Linked DNA regions of Homo sapiens: all the other regions are linked to region 1. Evidence: fine-mapped expression QTL. A gene starts in region 1. Each other region holds a variant in brackets. All regions are shown on one strand. Distances are from middle to middle.

The links. PIP is the estimated chance that this variant, and not a neighbour inherited with it, causes the effect.
Region 2: its variant is the best candidate, but not a certain one, in a credible set for the expression of HDHD3 in caudate (GTEx, PIP 0.85).
Region 3: its variant is the best candidate, but not a certain one, in a credible set for the expression of HDHD3 in minor salivary gland (GTEx, PIP 0.54).

The regions. Positions count from the first base shown.
Region 1 is chr9:113,374,416-113,380,064 of GRCh38, reverse strand. It overlaps HDHD3 (haloacid dehalogenase like hydrolase domain containing 3), which reads left to right and starts at 3,079. Exons shown (of 3, transcript NM_001304509.2): 1 at 3,079-3,336; 2 at 4,498-4,612; 3 at 5,536-5,649. RefSeq lists a silencer at 2,708-3,227.
Region 2 is chr9:113,351,963-113,357,611 of GRCh38, reverse strand. BSPRY (B-box and SPRY domain containing) reads right to left here. Exons shown (of 6, transcript NM_017688.3): 2 at 3,274-3,372. Among named protein-coding and RNA genes, the nearest start is that of BSPRY, 5.2 kb to the right of the region's middle. RefSeq lists a silencer at 5,047-5,096. The variant C/T (reference allele first, on the strand shown) is at 2,208.
Region 3 is chr9:113,344,710-113,350,358 of GRCh38, reverse strand. BSPRY (B-box and SPRY domain containing) reads right to left here and starts at 818. Exons shown (of 6, transcript NM_017688.3): 1 at 579-818. The coding sequence starts at 779. RefSeq lists silencers at 471-750, 781-850. The variant G/A (reference allele first, on the strand shown) is at 3,298.

The DNA of each region.
Region 1 (5,649 bases):
ATGGCCGTGTATGTAGGGAAAAGAGAGATCAGACTGTTATTGTGTCCATGTAGAAAAGGGAGACATAAGAAACTCCATTTTGACCTGTACCCTGAACAATTGCTTTGCCCTGAGATGCTGTTAATCTGTAACTTTGCCCCAACCTTGAGCTCACAGAAACATGTGTTGTATGGAATCAAGGTTTAAGGGATCTAGGGCTGTGCAGGATGTGCCTTGTTAACAAAATGTTTACAGGCAGTATGCTTGGTAAAAGTCATCGCCATTCTCCATTCTCGATAAACCAGGGGCACAATACACTGCGGAAAGCCGCAGGGACCTCTGCCCTGGAAAGCCTGGTATTGTCCAAGGTTTCTCCCCATGTGACAGCCTGAGATATGGCCTCGTGGGATGGGAAAGACCTGACCGTCCCCCAGCCCGACACCCGCGAGGGGTCTGTGCTGAGGAGGATTAGTAAAAGAGGAAGGCCTCTTGAAGTTGAGATAAGAGGAAGGCCTCTGTCTCCTGCCTGCCCCTGAAACTGAACGTCTCGGTATAAAACCCGATTATACATTTGTTCAATTCTGAGACAGGAGAAAAACCGCGCCGTGGCGGGAGGCGAGACATGTTGGCAGCAATGCTGCTTTGTTATTCTTTTCTCCACTGAGATGTTTGGGTGGAGAGAAGCATAAATCTGGCCTGTGTGCACATCCAGGCATAGTACCTTCCCTTGAACTTATTTGTGACTCAGATTCCTTTGCTCACATGTTTTCTTGCTGACCTTCTCCTCACTATCAGCCCGCTCTCCTATCGCATTCTTCTTGCTGAGATAGTGAAAATAGTAATCAATAAATACTGAGGGAACTCAGAGACCAGTGCCAGAGCAGGTCCTCCGTATGCTGAGCGCCGGTCTCCTGGGCCCACTGTTCTTTCTCCATACTTTGTCTCGGTGTCTTATTTCTTTTCTCAGTCTCTCGTCCCACCTGATGAGAAATACCCACAGGTGTGGAGGGGCAGGCCACCCCTTCACATGTAGAAACAGGATTGCACAAAACGCTAATAGACTGAATAGAGAAACCCACCAAGACCCATCTGTGTAGATTCTTCTTGGCCTCTCTGTGCAGTGTTCCTTCCTCCAGGGTATGCGGCAAGACCCTCTCAAAGGGGCCTGGGTGGTGGGGGCTGTCTTATGACCTGTCTTGCCTAAGGTCATAGTGCAAGGTGATGAGACTAAAGAGGAACAGAGCACAGGCACAGAAGTATCTCAAAGCTTCCCCTCCGGTACCTCCCCAGCCTCTTTGGCCCAAACCCCCTGGCTAGCAACATTCCTATAGTTCCTCAGTGTCTCTTTGGTTCGGAAAAAAAACTTTCTTGCCTGGAGGCCTTTGCATCAGGGGGTCCCTTAACCATCACTCAGATCCTTCCCCTCTGCATGGCCAACTCTCATATGTTTGTATTTTTTAGTTTTTTGAGACTAACATGCATTACATGCATACCTTATTTATTTATTATTTTTTTATTTTTTTATTTTTTTGAGATGGAGTTTTGCTCTTGTTACCCAGGCTGGAATACAGTAGCCTGATCTTGGCTCACTGCAACCTCCACCTCCCCGGTTCAAGCGATTCTCCTTCCTCAGCCTCCCAAGTAGCTGGGAATACAGGCATGAACCACCTCGCCTAATTTTGTATTTTTAGTAGAGACGGGGTTTCACCGTGTTGGCCAGGCTAGTCTTGAACTCCTGACCTCAGGTGATCCACCCACCTCAGCCTCCCAAAGTGCTGGCATTACAGGCGTGAGCCACCGCGCCCAGCCAACATACATTACTTTTGCAAACAAAGATAAAACTCTTTTTTTATTCTTCAAAAGAATAAAAAAGCTCCCTGGTGGTCTAGTGGTTAGGATTCCAGGCTCTTACCACAGGGATCTTTTTTTTTTTTTTTTTTTTTGGGGACACAGTCTCGCTCTTTGCCCAGGCAAATATTGTGCAGTGGCAGAATCTTGGCTCACTGTAAGCTCCGCCTCCCGGGTTCATGCCATTCTCCTGCCTCAGCCTCCCGAGTAGCTGGGACTACAGGCACCTGCCACCATGCCCGGCTAATTTTTTGTATTTTTAGCAGAGACAGGGTTTCACCGTGTTAGCCAGGATGGTACCACAGGGTTCTTAAAAACAAAAAGAGGCCAGGTGCGGTGGCTCATGCCTGTAATCCCAGCACTTTGGGAGGCTGAGGTGGGCGGATCACCTGAGGTCAGGAGTTCAAGACTAGCCAGGCCAACACGGCGAAACCCTGTCTCTACTAAAAATACAAAAATTAGTTGGGTGTGGTGGCACACACCTGTAATCCCAGCTACTGGGGAGTCTGAGGCAGGAGAATCGCAAGAAACTGGGAGGCGGGGGTTGCAGTGGGCTATCGCGCCACTGCACTCCAGCCTGAGCGACAGAGGGAGACTCCGTCTCAAAAAAAAAAAAAGAGAAAGAATAAAAAAGCAGGTTACTGCAGCGGACTCTACCCTCACCAAGTTATCTTGGATTTAACAAGTTTCCAACTGAAAGCAATTCCCTCCAATACCAACTGGGGACCCTGAGACCAGAGAGGGGCTGGGCCTTGCCCAGGTTCACACAACACTAAGCAAGCCAGGCTGGGTCCCAACTCCCCTCCTCCCACTCAACCTGGGTACTTCTCGGGGGTTTCCCGATCCAAAGGAGGCCAGGAGCCGGGGTTGGGGATGGGGAGCGGAGACAGCGGTGAGGAGCGGCGGTGTGGCGGGCAGGGGGTGCGCAGACAGGGCGGAGAAGGTGCTGGTAACGGGGGCTGCGGAGCGGAAGGGTGCGGGCTGGGGAACCTCAGAGGGTGCGGGGAGGGAATAAGGGGCGTAGATGGTGCAGGGTAACGGAGGCGCGCAGTGAAGGCGGGTGACAGGGGCGCAGAGAGGTGCACAGTGAGACGAAGGAGGGAGAGGGGACGGCGAGGGCGACGGGAGATGGGGCGGGAGAGGGCGAAGGTGAGGGGGATAAGGGCGGGGACGGGGCGGGGACAGAGGCGGGTCGGGATGGTAGGGAGGGGCGGCCCGCGCGATCCCCGCCCCACCGCCCGGCGCTTGCGCACCTCCGCCCGAGCTCGCGGGCCTTGCGGCTGCGTTTTCAATCTGCTTCCTTGTGAGTCAGGTGGGTCCTGGGCCCAGGAACCGGCCCGGAGCCGTGGACGCCCTACAGCTGAGAAGGGGACCCAAGGGGTCGGCCGCGGCCAAGGCCCCTAGGACCGCCGCCCCAGCTCACGCTGCCGACGGCAGCTATAGACATTCTGCGTCAGGTCCGGGCTCCTGGACTTCGCCTTTCCCGAGCCCTGGAGGTGGGGAGAAAAGGTGAGCAGTTCGTGCCTGCAGCGCAGAGCCCCAAACCCGCGGTTTTAGAAATCGAAAAAGCCCTGCCGGGCGCGGTGGCTCACGCCTTTACCGTAATCCCAGCACTTTGGGAGGCCGGGGGGCGGGGTGGGGCGGGGGAGGATCACGAGTTCGGGAGTTCGAGACCAGCCTGGCTAACATAGTTGAAACCCCGTCTCCACTAAAAATACAAAAATTAGCCAGGTGTGGTGGCGCGCGCCTGTAGTCCCAGCTACTCTGGAGGCTAAGGAAGGAGAATCGCTTGAATCCGGGAGGCGGAAGTTGCAGTGAGCCGAGATCGCACCACTGTACACCTGGGTGACAGAGTGAGACTCTGTCTCAAAAAAAAAAAAAAAGAAAAAAAGCCGGCCGGGTATAGTGGCTCACGCCTGTAATCCTAACACTTTGGGAGGCTGAGGTCGGGAGTTCGAGACCAGCCTGGCCAACATGGAGAAACCCCGTCTCTACTAAAAATACAAAAAAAAAAGGAGCCGGGGATGGTGGCGCATGCCTGTAATCCCAGCTACTTGGGAGGCTGAGGCAGGAGAATCGCTTGAACCTGGGAGGCGGAGGTTGCAGTGAGCCGAGATCGCGCCATTGCACTTCAGCCTGGGCAACAAGAACGAAACTCCGCCTCAAAAAAAAAAAAAAAAAAAAAAAAAAGCCGTGGGTCAGGAGCCAGAGCCCTCTGCTCTAGTCTTAGCTGTGCCAATGTGACTCCCTGTGTGATTTGGGGGTAAATTACTGCCCCTCACTGGGTCTCTGTCTACCCACCTGCAAAATGAGAGGATCTTTGGATGAGTCTCCTTAATTCATTTCCTGGACAAACTTCCTCCAAGGCTCCCCCAGATTTACCAGTGACGCCCTTCCCTAAGTATCAACTTAGCCGTACTTTGAACTCTGGCCCCTCAGGTTTCAAGGGGACGGCCTTGTCTGGGATCAGCTCTGTCTGGGGAAAGAAGCTGCACCAGCCTCTGGATAGCAGGCTGAGTCACTTGTTTCTTGTGCCTTGAGTCAGTTCTCTCATCAGCTCTCCTCCTAGGCCAGTGTTATTACCTCCAGTAAAGATGGAAAAGTTGGGGTTCAGAGAGGGCTAGAGACAGACAGCCTGCTGTGTCCTGTCTTTTCTCCTGTGCTGTACAGGTTCACCAATTTTTAAAATCCAAATATATCTCATGGTACAGTGGAAGAACTGGCCAGAGAGTCTGGAAGTTTGGGTTCTGGTCCTGGCTGTGCCACTGACTCACTGTGACCTTGGGTAAGTACCTGCCCCTTTCTGGCTCAGTCTACTCTGCCCAGCAGCCAAGATATCGTTCATATGCTCTGCAAGGCCCCTTCTGTCTTTGACATCCCTAATAATGATAATAGCAATCATAATAATTGTGTCCTGTGTGCCAGACAGCTGGCCTCTGTCTACTTGCCCTGCCTCAGGGCCTTTGCACTTGCTATTTCCACTGACGGGAGCACTCACCTACCTCTGCTTCTTGCACATTCATTCTTCTGATCTCCATTGAAACTTGACTTGCAGGGCTGGGAGTGATGGCTCATGCCTGTAATCCCAGTACTTTGGGTGGCCAAGGCTGGGGGATCACTTGAGTCCAGGGGTTGGAGAGCAGCCTGGGCAACATAGTGAGACCCACCCCGCCCCACCACCCCACATCTCTACAAAAAGTTCAAAAATTAGCCGGGCATGGTGGCACGTGCCTGTAGCCCCAGCTACTAGGGAGGCTAAAGCAGGAGGATTGACTGAGCCTGGGAGATCGAGGCTGCAATGAGCCATGCACTCCAGCCTGGGAGACAGAGAGAGACCCTGTCTCACAAAAAAATTAAAAAAAATAAATAAAAAGAAACTTCACTTGCTTATGACATTCCCTAACTACACAGACTAGATGCGGTCCCTGGATTTAGATCCTTACGGTATCTATTGACTTCATTATATTTAAGTGTTTGTATAGTTCTTTGCCTAATATCCGTATCCCTGTTCTTCAGTGCCTGTAAATGCCCTAAGGGCTGGAAATCTATCCCATATGCTAGCAGCTAGCTCAAAAAGGTGCTCAGAAATTTGTTGTGGATTCAGAGTGACTTTCCTAGGGTCACACCATTGGCAGCACCAGAATTTGAACCCAGTCTGTCTGATGTCAGGGCCTGAGCTTCCACCTTACCTGCTATTTTTCATTCTAGGATCTTGTGCTGTGAAGACATTTCCCAAGTGCTTCATGTTAGCCAGCAAATCTGACCCACAAGGCCTGGAAAGAGGTGATTGTTAGGTTGCGCAGAGGTGGTCTTATCCAGCTC
Region 2 (5,649 bases), 22 kb after region 1:
ACTAAGAACAACTTTATCTTAAGTAAACCCTTAAGAAAAAAGAGTTCTGTTTTCCAATCCATTGAATAAGGCTCACATAACCTTGATACCAAATCTGATGAGGACTGTACAAGAAATGAAATTCATAGACTAATCTCACTCCTGAGCATACAAGCAAAAATCCTAAAACAAAAATAAAAAATGCTTTACTGAGATTAGCAATCCAAATTCAGAAATTTTGTATTAATAATACAAGGGGATAGGAAAGGGTACATGTGGCTATAAAAGGGTAGCACAAGGAGTCCTAGTGATGGAACTGTTCTGTATTTTAATTGTGGTAGTAATCACATGAATCTATGCCTGTGATAAGATAGTTAAATAAATATACACCATTTGAGAGCAGTGATCTCTCCCACCTCCTTGGAACCCATGCTGGGACACTCTGCTCTCTTAGTTTACTTCCGTTTCATTAGCTGATTTCTTGGTCCCCGTTCGCTGGTTCCTTCTGTCTTCTCAATAGGAGGTGAAGTGCCCTAGGGCTCAGTCTTTGGACCGCTGCTCTTTCGTGTCTACACTCATTCACTTAGTGATGTCATCCTCTCCCACGGCTTTCAATACTATTTATACACTGATAAATCCCAAATTTATATCTCCAACCCAGCCCTCTCCCAACTCATATATGCAGCTACCTACTCAGCACCTTCACTTGGATGTCAAATAGGTATCTCAAACATAACATGCCCACAACAACTTAGCATGCCTGCTCTCCCCCACTCCCCTCCCTGCCTCCGCCAACCATCACTCCACATGCAGTCCTTCCCCCACCCAGTTCATGGCTGCTCCATCCTGCCAGTTGCTCAAATAAAAAAACTTCAGCATTATCCTGACACCTCCCCTCTTTCTTTCATAGCCTACATCTAGTCCATCAGCAAATCCTGTTGCCTCTTCAAAATATATGCAGAATCTAGCCACTTCTCACTAGCTTTGCCACCATTGCTTGGGTCCAGACCACACTTGTTTCCCACCTGGATTATTACAATGGCTTCCTAACTGGTCTCCCTGCTTTAACCTTTGCCGCCTATAATCACTTCTAAACATAGCAGCCAAAGTGTTTCTTTCTTTTTTTTTTGAGACAGAGTCTCGCACTGTTGCCCAGGCTGCAGTGCAGTGCGCAGTCTCAGCTCACTGCAACCTCCGCCTCCCGGGTTCAAGTGATTCTCCTGCCTCAGCCTCCCAAGTAGCTGAGAATACAGGCGCCCGCCACCATGCCCTGCTAATTTTTTTGTATTTTTAGTAGAGACGGGGTTTCACCGCGTTAGCCAGGATGGTCTGGAACTCCTGACCTCGTGATCCACCCGCCTCAGCCTCCTAAAGTGCTGGGATTACAGGCATGAGCCACTGCGCCCAGCCTCAACCTTCTTAATGAAGTCATTCCTGGTCACAGCACATGTAATTGCAACCCGTCCTATTCCCCTTTCTGTTTTATATTTCCCCATAGCACATATCACCTTCGGACATAACATAGATTTTGTTACTGTCCCTCTTCTGTGACAAGAATGTAGGCTTCATGAAAATAGGAATTTCTGTTTTGTTCACTGGAGAATGCCTAACCCATTGAACAACAGTATCTGGCACATGGTAGGTGCTCAATAAAGATTTGTTAAATAAATAACTGGTGAAATATTGGTAGCTTTCCTCTTAAAGTCAGGATTTGTCGGGCCAGGCACAGTGGCTCACGCCTGTAATCCCAGCACTTTGGGAGGCCGAGGTGGGCAGATCACCTAAGGTCAGGAGTTCAAGAACAGCCTGGCCAACATGGTGAAACTCCATCTCTACTAAAAATACAAAAAATTAGCTGGGTGTCGTGGTGGGCGCTTGTAATCCCAGCTACACGGGAGGCTGAAGCAGGAGAATCGCTCGAACCCAGGAGACGGAGGTTTCAGTGAGCCGAGATCGCGCCATTGCACTCCAGTCTGAGCAACAAGAGTGAAACTCTGTCTCAAAAAAAAAAAAAAGCCAGGATTTGCCACACTAGCTTCTATTTAACACAGTACTAAGGTCATAACCAGTGCAGTAAGACAAGAAAATAAAAAGGATAAAGAAGAAGAGGGGAAGAGGGCAGGGGAGGGAGATGGAGACCATCATGCAAAAGCAAAGCATAGATGGGCACCAAGTAGCTGCCTGGACTCCTAGCAGCTTTCTGGTTCCTGGTCTAGCCCCTTTTAGGT[C/T]CTAAGAGGACCCCTAGTGTCCTGTCAGGAAATGCCCCATTTTGCTTATACTTGTTCAACTGGGTTCTGTTCCATGCAATTAAAAGAACTCTGACTAATGTGGTACCAAGTCTGTTCCGTGTACTATAGGGAAAGGAGGGAGGGGATATGCAGAAAGAAATTCATAGGCTCTGCCCCTGATAGGCATACTTGAAAGTGATGACACAGCAGTGGTAATGAGTCCACTGAATAAAAAAATCTGCAGTGGAGGCCAGGCATGGCGGCTCACACCTGTAATCCTAGTACTTTGGAAGGCCAAGGAGGGAGGTTGGCTTAAGCCCAGGAGTTCGAGACCAGCCTGGTCAATATGGTAAAACCCCGTCTCTACTAAAAATTTACAAAGTTAGCCACTCATGGTGGCAGGCATCTGTAATCCCAGCACTTTGGGAGGCTGAGGCAGGAGAATTGCTTGAACCAGGGGTTACTGTGGGCCAAGATCACACCACTGCACTCCAGCCTGGGCAACAGAGTGAGGCCCCATCTCAAAAAGAAAAAAAATTAAAAAAAAGAATCAGCAGTGGGATGCAGCAGAAGGAGCACTAGCCTAGGAGACAGAAGATCCAGGTCACAGAACCGACTGCCAGGAGGCTATGGGGTCCTTGGACAGGTCAGTTAACCTCTTTAACCTCTATAAGGACCCATTTTCCTATTTGTAAATGGGGATGTTACTGCTATCTACTTCATAAGATTGTCACAGAGAATATTCAATGTAAAAGTCCTAGGTTATTTTATAATTCTGCAGCTGGGCAGAAAATGACCAGATGGTAGAAGAATACGACCCTTCTTGATCCCCTATGCCAAGATACCCAAGAAAGTCATTTGCTAGCAGAGTCTTTGCACCAAGTATGGTACAGGAACAAGCCCACCCTGCCCAGATGGTAAAATTGAGTCTCTGAGGGATGAGAAGCTTTGCTAGTAGCACAATGAGTCTGTGAGGTTGGTAAGGGACCCTAGACTTGCCCAAGTCCCTAAGTCTAAGGCCTTATCCTGGGAGGGGGCTGAGTAGAGAGGAAAGAAGAGGAATTACCACTGCTCTTTGATTCTTCCCCGGCAGGACGTCCGCCACATACTTGGTGATGGCAGCACTCTGTAACTGCAGCCTCTCACACTGGTCCACAATCTTGTTCTGCAACACAAACAACGCTTGTGGCATCTTGGTCCATGTACCTGAGCCATTCACTCCATCCCAGTGATTTTCTCCTGTTACCACATGTCAGCCACCCACTCCCATGGTCATAGCCCAGATCTCATCATTATCAAAAACTGTACCACCTCCTAAATCTCCATTTCAAGGATCCACACTCTCCCCACCATGCCCTATCCTTCTCACTCCCTAATTCTAGGATACCTATTCCAGCAACAGCTCAGTTGAGGCCACCAACACACTAGTGGGACTACCTTTCACTGTCCATCATCCCCTTCTGTGACCTCACCTCCGTCTTCATCCCAGAACCCCAGCCTATCATTATAATAACTTTAAAACAAATTTTTGCTCTATGAATATTCTCAGGCTATATTATTTAGAAACATTTAAGATTAGAATCATTATATGTTGCTGGTGAACTGCACATTCTCTAAGTGACTTTATCTTTAGTACTATGTTTGCCTTAAAGTCCATTTTGTCTTGTGTTTATTTTTATTTTTTTTTATTTATTTATTTTTTGAGGCAGAGTCTCACTCGGTTGCCCAGGCTGGAGTGCAGTGGTGCGATCTCGGCTCACTGCAACTTCCACCTCCCAGGTTCAAGCGATTCTCCTGCTTCAGCCTCCCAAGTAGCTGGGATTACAGGTGTGTGTCACCACACCCAGCTAATTTTTGTATTTTTAGTAGAGACAGGGTTTCACCATGTTGGCCAGGCTGGTTTCGAACTCCAGACCTCAGGTGATCTGCCCGCCCTGACCTCTCAAAGTGCTGGGATTACAGGTGTGAGCCACCGCACCCAGGCGTTTGTTTCTTTTTAAATTTATTTATGTATTTATTTTGAGATAGAGTCTTGCTTGTCGTCCAGGCTGAGTGCAGTGGCATGATCAAGACTCACTGCAGCCTTGACCTTCCAGGCTCAAGTGATCCTCCCATGTCCTTCCTGAGTAGCTAGAACTACAGGCACGTGCCACCACACCTGGCTACTTTTTGCATTTTTTGTAGAGATGGACTTTTGCCATGTTGCATAGGTTGGTCTCCAACTCCTGGGCTCAAGCAATCCTCCCGCCTCAGCCCCCCAAAGTGCTGGGATGTTACAGGTGTGAGCCACCACGCTCAGCCCGTTATAACCACTTTCTGGCGCACACACTCTTGGTCCTCCGTCATACTCAGCTGCCTGACTGTCCATACCTTCTGTTCTGTCCAGAACTGCTCTCTGCCAAGTTATCCTCATTCATTAAGCAGCACCATCAATCATTCACCTGTTACCCAGACCAAAAACCCAGGAGTTTGTCTCCAACCCCACATCAATTCCATTAGTGAGTCCTATCAACCCCATCTCCAAAGTCTCTCTCTCTCCTCTGGTCACCTCTACTCCAGTTATTCTATCCAGGTTGCCATGATCTCTCACAGGAACCACTGTTAGAACCTCTTAACTGGGTACCCTGCACCCCCAACCCCCCAGCTAGCCAGAGCCACCTTTTGTAAGGAAATCAGACCAGGTCATGCCCCTACTCAAAACCCTCCAATGGCTTTCAGTACACTCACAATGACATCAGGCTTCTTAGCTTAGCCAACCTAGCCCCACCTGATGTGACTCAGCTTATTTCTCCAACATCACTTTCTACCTCTATCCATGCTGGCCTTCTTTCTGTTCCTTAAATGTACCAAACTTGTCCTGACTTCAGTGCCTTTGCACCTGCAGTTCCGTTTCCACCAGTCTGTGTGTGTGTGTGTGTGTGTGTCTCACTCCCCAACTGCATTCAGATGTCATCTCTTCAGAGAGGTCTTCCCTGACCATCTCCCTCCTCACCCAATCTCTTACTTTGCTTTATTTTTCTCCCTTGCACTTATAACTCTCTGACTATATATTATGTGTTTGTTTACCTTTTTGGGTATCTGTCTCCCCCACCACTGGAACAGAAGCACCATAAGTCTGACTTCTCTATGTCCTAGTACCTCAAAGAGAGTTTCTGAACATAGAAGGCCCTGAATAAATATTTGTTGAATGAACGAACACCCACTGCCTTGACCACAAGAGGTTCAGCAGTTCATGGCTCTCAAAGCTATGAGCATCATCCATGAGCTCAGGGGAGTTTTAGAAATGGGAAAGCTGGCCGGGCACGGTGGCTCACACCTGTAATCCCAACACTTTGGGAGGCTGAGGTGGGCGGATCACCTGAGATCAGGAGTTCGAGACCAGCCTGGCCAACGTGGTGAAACCCCATCTCTACCAAAAAATACAAAAATTAGCCAGGCGTAG
Region 3 (5,649 bases), 30 kb after region 1:
AAAAGAGATCACCGCACCAGAAGCCAGAAGGGGTTAGGAGCAGGGGGAAGAGGCGAAAGGAGGAGGGGGGCTTTGAGTCCAGGGGTTAAGGGATACGGTCGCGCTGGATTTTATCAGTGTCAGTTTCCACAGGGGCGGGAGCTGGGGCACACCCTGCGCTGAGAACTGGAGCAGCTGAGCCTTTCATGCCAGCCCCAGCTTCCTCAACAGAGCAATGGAAGGGGCCTGGGGAGCCTGGATCCCCTTATCGCTAAGCATTTTACCCACTATCTTATTTATTTCTCACAACTCTAATAAATACGCGCTATTATTATTGTTGTTGTCCCCAAACTACAGATGAAGACACTGAGGCTCAGAGTTACGTGACTCACAGGGAGTAGATTCGAACTCAGGCCAGCCTGACTTCAGAGGCCACACCCTTAACCGCCTAGTCCTACAGCCAAAGCCACCGAGGAGCCTAGGCTCCGGGGCCGGGTGTCGAGTCCGCCCAGCCCCAGGCTCCCCAGTCCCTGCCGGGTCCCGCCAGGCGCGCCCGGGGTCTCCGGAGCCCTCGCCTTCCGGCGCCCACACCCGCTCACCCGCAGCTCCTCGGCGCGCTCCTCCGCCCGGCGGATGCGGTGCCCCCGGCAGCGACCGCCCAACCCCGCGCAGGCGGCGCACACGGGCCGTCGCTCGGAGCCGCAGAACCAGCTCAGAGCCTGGCCGTGTTCGGGGCAGAGTGGCCCCGGCCCGGGCCCGGACCCGGACCCCGGCCCCGGCTCCGCGCCCTCGGCGGACATGGCCGTGCGCCCGCCCCGTGCGCTCCACCTGTCGCAGGTGGCGGCGGGCGGGGCCTGGCTGACCCCGCCCCCGGCCCTCCCGGTGCGCCAGCGCGCCCCGCAGCTGCGCCTCCTCCCACCCAACCCGCGCTCCCATCCCGCCCGGGGCAGCAGGTCTCTTTAAATTCCTTGTTGAATGAAATCGCGATTGTATGCGTATTTGTTCTACAACAAACATAAAACTCCAAATATTACTGTGACCGTAGGAAACTTTATTGAGCACTTATTAAGTGCCAGGCTTTCGCTGAGAGCTTTGCAAGCGTTCTGTTATGTAATCCCGACCACTGCCCTTTTTGAGAGGCAGCTTTAGATGCCTAGCTTCAAGCAAGGCTCTGCTGAGAAACTGCCTGGTTCAAATCCCGTTTGGCTGCTCACTGGGTGGGAACTCCAGCTGTAAAATGGGGTGAGAGTACCTGCCTCCCAGACGTCTGAGGAGTAAATACGCTAAATACGTAAAACAATATCTGGAACATAGCAGCTGCAATCGCTAAGTGTCTACTAACAGTGCGAGGAAAGTACTATTAGGATCCCATTTTTATGGAAGTTAAGTGGCTTGCCAAGGGTCACAGTTACTAATTGGTAGCTATGAGATTGGAACCTAGGCAGTGTGACTTAAGGTTACTATAATTAATAATTTTTTAAATTGAACATTGAGGCCCAGTGAGAAATATCTGTATTAGGCTGATTTTCCCAAAGTATTTACATCCAAACTTTTTGAATTTGAATATTTGAGTTTTCTTTTTAAACTAGCATTGAAAAAAAGTAATGCCTTTTTATTTCGAAGAAAACAAAATATGCAAATAAGCATGTGGAAGAAAAATCCACCCACTCCCACCCCAGAAAGAAAAACTGCTAACATGTTCCTGAGCTGTTTAGGGCTTTTCCCACCCTCAGGATCTTATATATTAGTCTGAGCCCAGATTGAGCCCTCTGCTGGGGATCCAGTCTAGTCTGTCTGGGCATACAAGGAGAACGCTGCTCTCCAGCTCTAAATTCTTCTTCTTCTTTTTTTTTTTTATTTTTTTTTATTTTTTTGAGATAGGGTCTCACTGTGTCACCCTGGCTGGAGTGCAGTGGTGTAATCATAGCTCACTGCAGCCTCGACCTCCCCAGCTCAAGTGATCCTCCCACCTCAGCCTCCTGAGTAGCTGGGACTACAGGCACATGCCACCGTGCCCAGCTAAGTTTTGTATTTTTCGTAGAGACAGGGTTTTGCCATGTTGCCCAGGCTGATCTCAAACTCCTGGGCTCAAGCCATCTCCCCCCTTCAGCCTCCCAAAGTGCTGGGATTACAGGTGTGAGCCACCGCGCCCGGCCACCAACCCCAAATTCTTTCTTAGGAGTCTTGGCAGAAAGCTGGGCACTCTCTCAAAAGGGGAAGGGCCCAGGCCTTCAGGTGTCAGAGAGTACTCTGAGTGCATCAGAACTGAACACAGGCGGGAGCTAAACCGAAAGAGAAACATTACATCCCATAGCTCACAGGGGCTCTAGCACCTCTACTCTGAAGCTTCTCTAAGCAATGGCCACACAAAGGAGATAGAACCCTTTCCTTCTCAGCCACTACTGCTTTAGCACCTGAGGGGTAAGGGCAGCTAACAGCCCCAGAGCTACCCAGAGCGGTACACAGTGGTGTCATCATCCAATGGGGACACATTGTCACCCCAGATAGACAATATTACACCATATGATTAGAGAGAACACTGAGTGAAATATAGTCATTGGTTTCATCCCAGCTATGCAGCTTACAGCTATGGGATCTTGGTCAGGTTACTCACAGCTTCTGTGTCTGTTTTCTTATCTCTACAACAGAGGTGATAATAATACTATCATCTACCTTAGAGGGCTACTTCAAGAATGAAATGAGATCTTGTCTACAAAGTATTTACTTTGGGTGTCTGATATACAGTAGGGGATAATAAAAGGTTTTATTATATGTGTGAGGATCTGTAAATACAGTTGTAGCAGGTTTCAGAATGTAAATTGTGTGAGGTTCTTTGGCGACAGGGGTGCTGCTTTCCTGGCATCTAAAGAAGTTTCCAGTGCATCCCAGTGGGAGGGTGATGGCCTCATAACAGCATCTACACTCCTCTGGGGGTGGGGAGGGAAATAGGCCATGGTAATTAGAGATTGTGGTTAGAATTTTTTCCTTCTAAGGACTGGGGATGGGGAATTATTAAACCCTATGGTGAAAACAAAGAAAATAGGAGGTGCTTTTTGTGTGAAGGCTAAAAAGAAAAGAGGTTGTGTGGCCAGGAGCAGTGGCTCATGCCTGTAATCCCAGCACTTTGGAAGGCTGAGGCAGGCGGATCACTTGAGGAGTTCGAGACCAGTCTGGCCATCATGGTGAAACCCCGTCTCTACTAAAAGCACAAAAATTAGCCGGGCATGGTGGTGCACACCTGTAATCCTAGCTGCTGGGGAGGCTGAGGCATGAGAATCGCTTGAACCCAGGAGGTGGAGGTTGCAGTGAGCTGAGATC[G/A]CGCCACTGCACTCCAGCCTGGACAACAGAGCAACACTCTGTTTCAAAAAAAAAAAAAAAGAAAGAAAGAAAGAAAAGAAAAGAAAAGAAAGAAAAGAGGTTGTGGAGGGCAGGGGGAGGAACAAGGGTTAAAATCCTTAGGGAAAGGTGGGGGGGGGGGAGGGGGGCCTTCACTGGGTGTGGCCCTAGAGCAGTCATTGGCCCTACCAGGTCCAGGATCTGGAAAACAGCCCCTAAATCACCAGAATTACTTTCAGGTAGTGGCATCAGCAAATGCAAAGGGCTAAGGTAGGAGTAGATTTACTTTTATCAAGTCGGGTTCCTCTGTTTCACCACTTATGAGCCAAGTTGGACTGGAACTGGAGAATCGCCCTTTCCCTATCTGTTCATCAAGCCCTGCAGGACACATCTGGGATACTCATAAACTCCCCGGTTATAGCTCTTAAGCTTTATCAGGCTTCGGAATCGTTGGAGGACAGGGGATGGTCAGGAGGGGAAAGAGGAGGAGTTGTAAAACACGCAGACTTTCCGGTAAGATTTTCATCCATTAAGTCTGGGATGAAGCCAAGAAGCTGCATCTGTGGCAGTCACTCCTTGACTAGGATGCAAAGGAGCCCCTTGACTGTTTCTAGAAACACTGCCCTAAGGCAGTGGCAACCCTTTATTAGGTGGCATATCAAGAAATTCAAGGGGTGGAGATCAGCATCTTTTATAAAAAGAAAGAAAAGGCTGGGCACAATGGCTCACGCCTGTAATCTCAGCATTTTGGGAGGCTGAGGAAGGTGGATCACCTGAGGTCAGGAGTTCGAGACCAGCTTGGCCAACATGGTGAAACTCCGTCTCTACTAAAGATACAAAAACTAACCAGGCGTGATGGCACATGCCTGTAGTCCCAGCTACTTGGGAGGCTGAGGCAGAAGAATCACTTGAACCCGGGAGGCAGAAGTTGCAGTGAGCAGAGACTATACCACTGCACTCCAGCCTGGGTGGTGGGTGACAGAGTGAGGCTCTGTCTCCAAAAGAGAAAAAAAGAAAAGAATAAAGAACAGAAAACATGCTCTTAGTAAGGTTTTTGTTGTTTCAATTACATATATATAGGTAAACAAAATGGATGGAAGGTCGTTGTTTTGGACTGGGCTTCCACACTAGGCCCCACCATACCAAACCAAAACAAAATGGAGTTACTCATGCTAAACTGCCACTTCACCAAACCAAAACTAAGTAGTTTATCTGAACTTCCAAGAAATTGGGAGAGAAAAAGAGAAAGAGAGAGCATATTAAAATCCCCAAACAGTACAGAATTAGCTGGCATGATAAGGAAGTCCTCTCTGTTTTAACCCTAAAAGGAAAGTAACTTTGAAATGAGTAATCCTCTTTTTTTTTCCAGCTCTTTTCTACCTATAAAGCCCATGTCCTCTGTTCAGCTCATTGGAACATTCTGTTTTATAGAATTAGGTGTTGCCTGATTCTAGAAGTGCTAATAAAAGCCAATAAGATCACTCAACTACATTTGTTGTAATTTTGTCTTTGGCCTATATATACGTACATATGCACCGTGGAGAATGAATGTACTTCTTTATGAGGTCAAAAAAATTTGAAAGCTGCTTAGAGCTCTTAGGGGACCTCTGGAGGCTTCATGGGCATAGGCAGGGCTGTACTTGAACTTCAGGCACTCTGAGCTAGGGAGAGAAGAATGGACACCATTGTTACATTTTAGTCATTCAACAGATTTATTGAGCCCCTGCCAATGTGCCAGGCCTTAGACACTGGGGATACAACAGTCAAGAAGAACAAAGTCTACTTTCATGCACAAATAAAATGCAACAAATGGATATGTAATATAATGTCAGTAATGATAAGGGCTATGAAAAAGATTCAAGTATTACAAGAAAAAGAGCATGATGGAGGTGCTGGTGTAGAAAGGATGGTGTAGAAGTCCTCTCAGGTAAGTGGCACTGGAAGAAGCAAGGCATGAAAACATCTGGGGAGGAGATTTCCAGACAGAGGACTAGCAAGTGCAAGATGTCTTTCTGTACCATGAACTCTGCTCCCCAATCTTCAAAGAACCTCACACGATTTACAATGTGTGAAAAACTGCTACAAATATACTTACAGGTCCTCACACATAGGTTAAAGCATTCATTAGCTCCCACTATATGATACAAGCTGGAACATATTTATTTTACAAAATTGGGATTATGTGTACAACCTGCTCTCTAACCTGCCCTTTCACTTGCTCATTTATAACATTTGGCTTGGATCTTTTTTAAAAAACTTTAAAAAAAAAATAACTTCTGGGCCAGGTGTGGTGGCTCACACCTGTAATCCCAGCACTTTGGGAGGTCGAGGTGG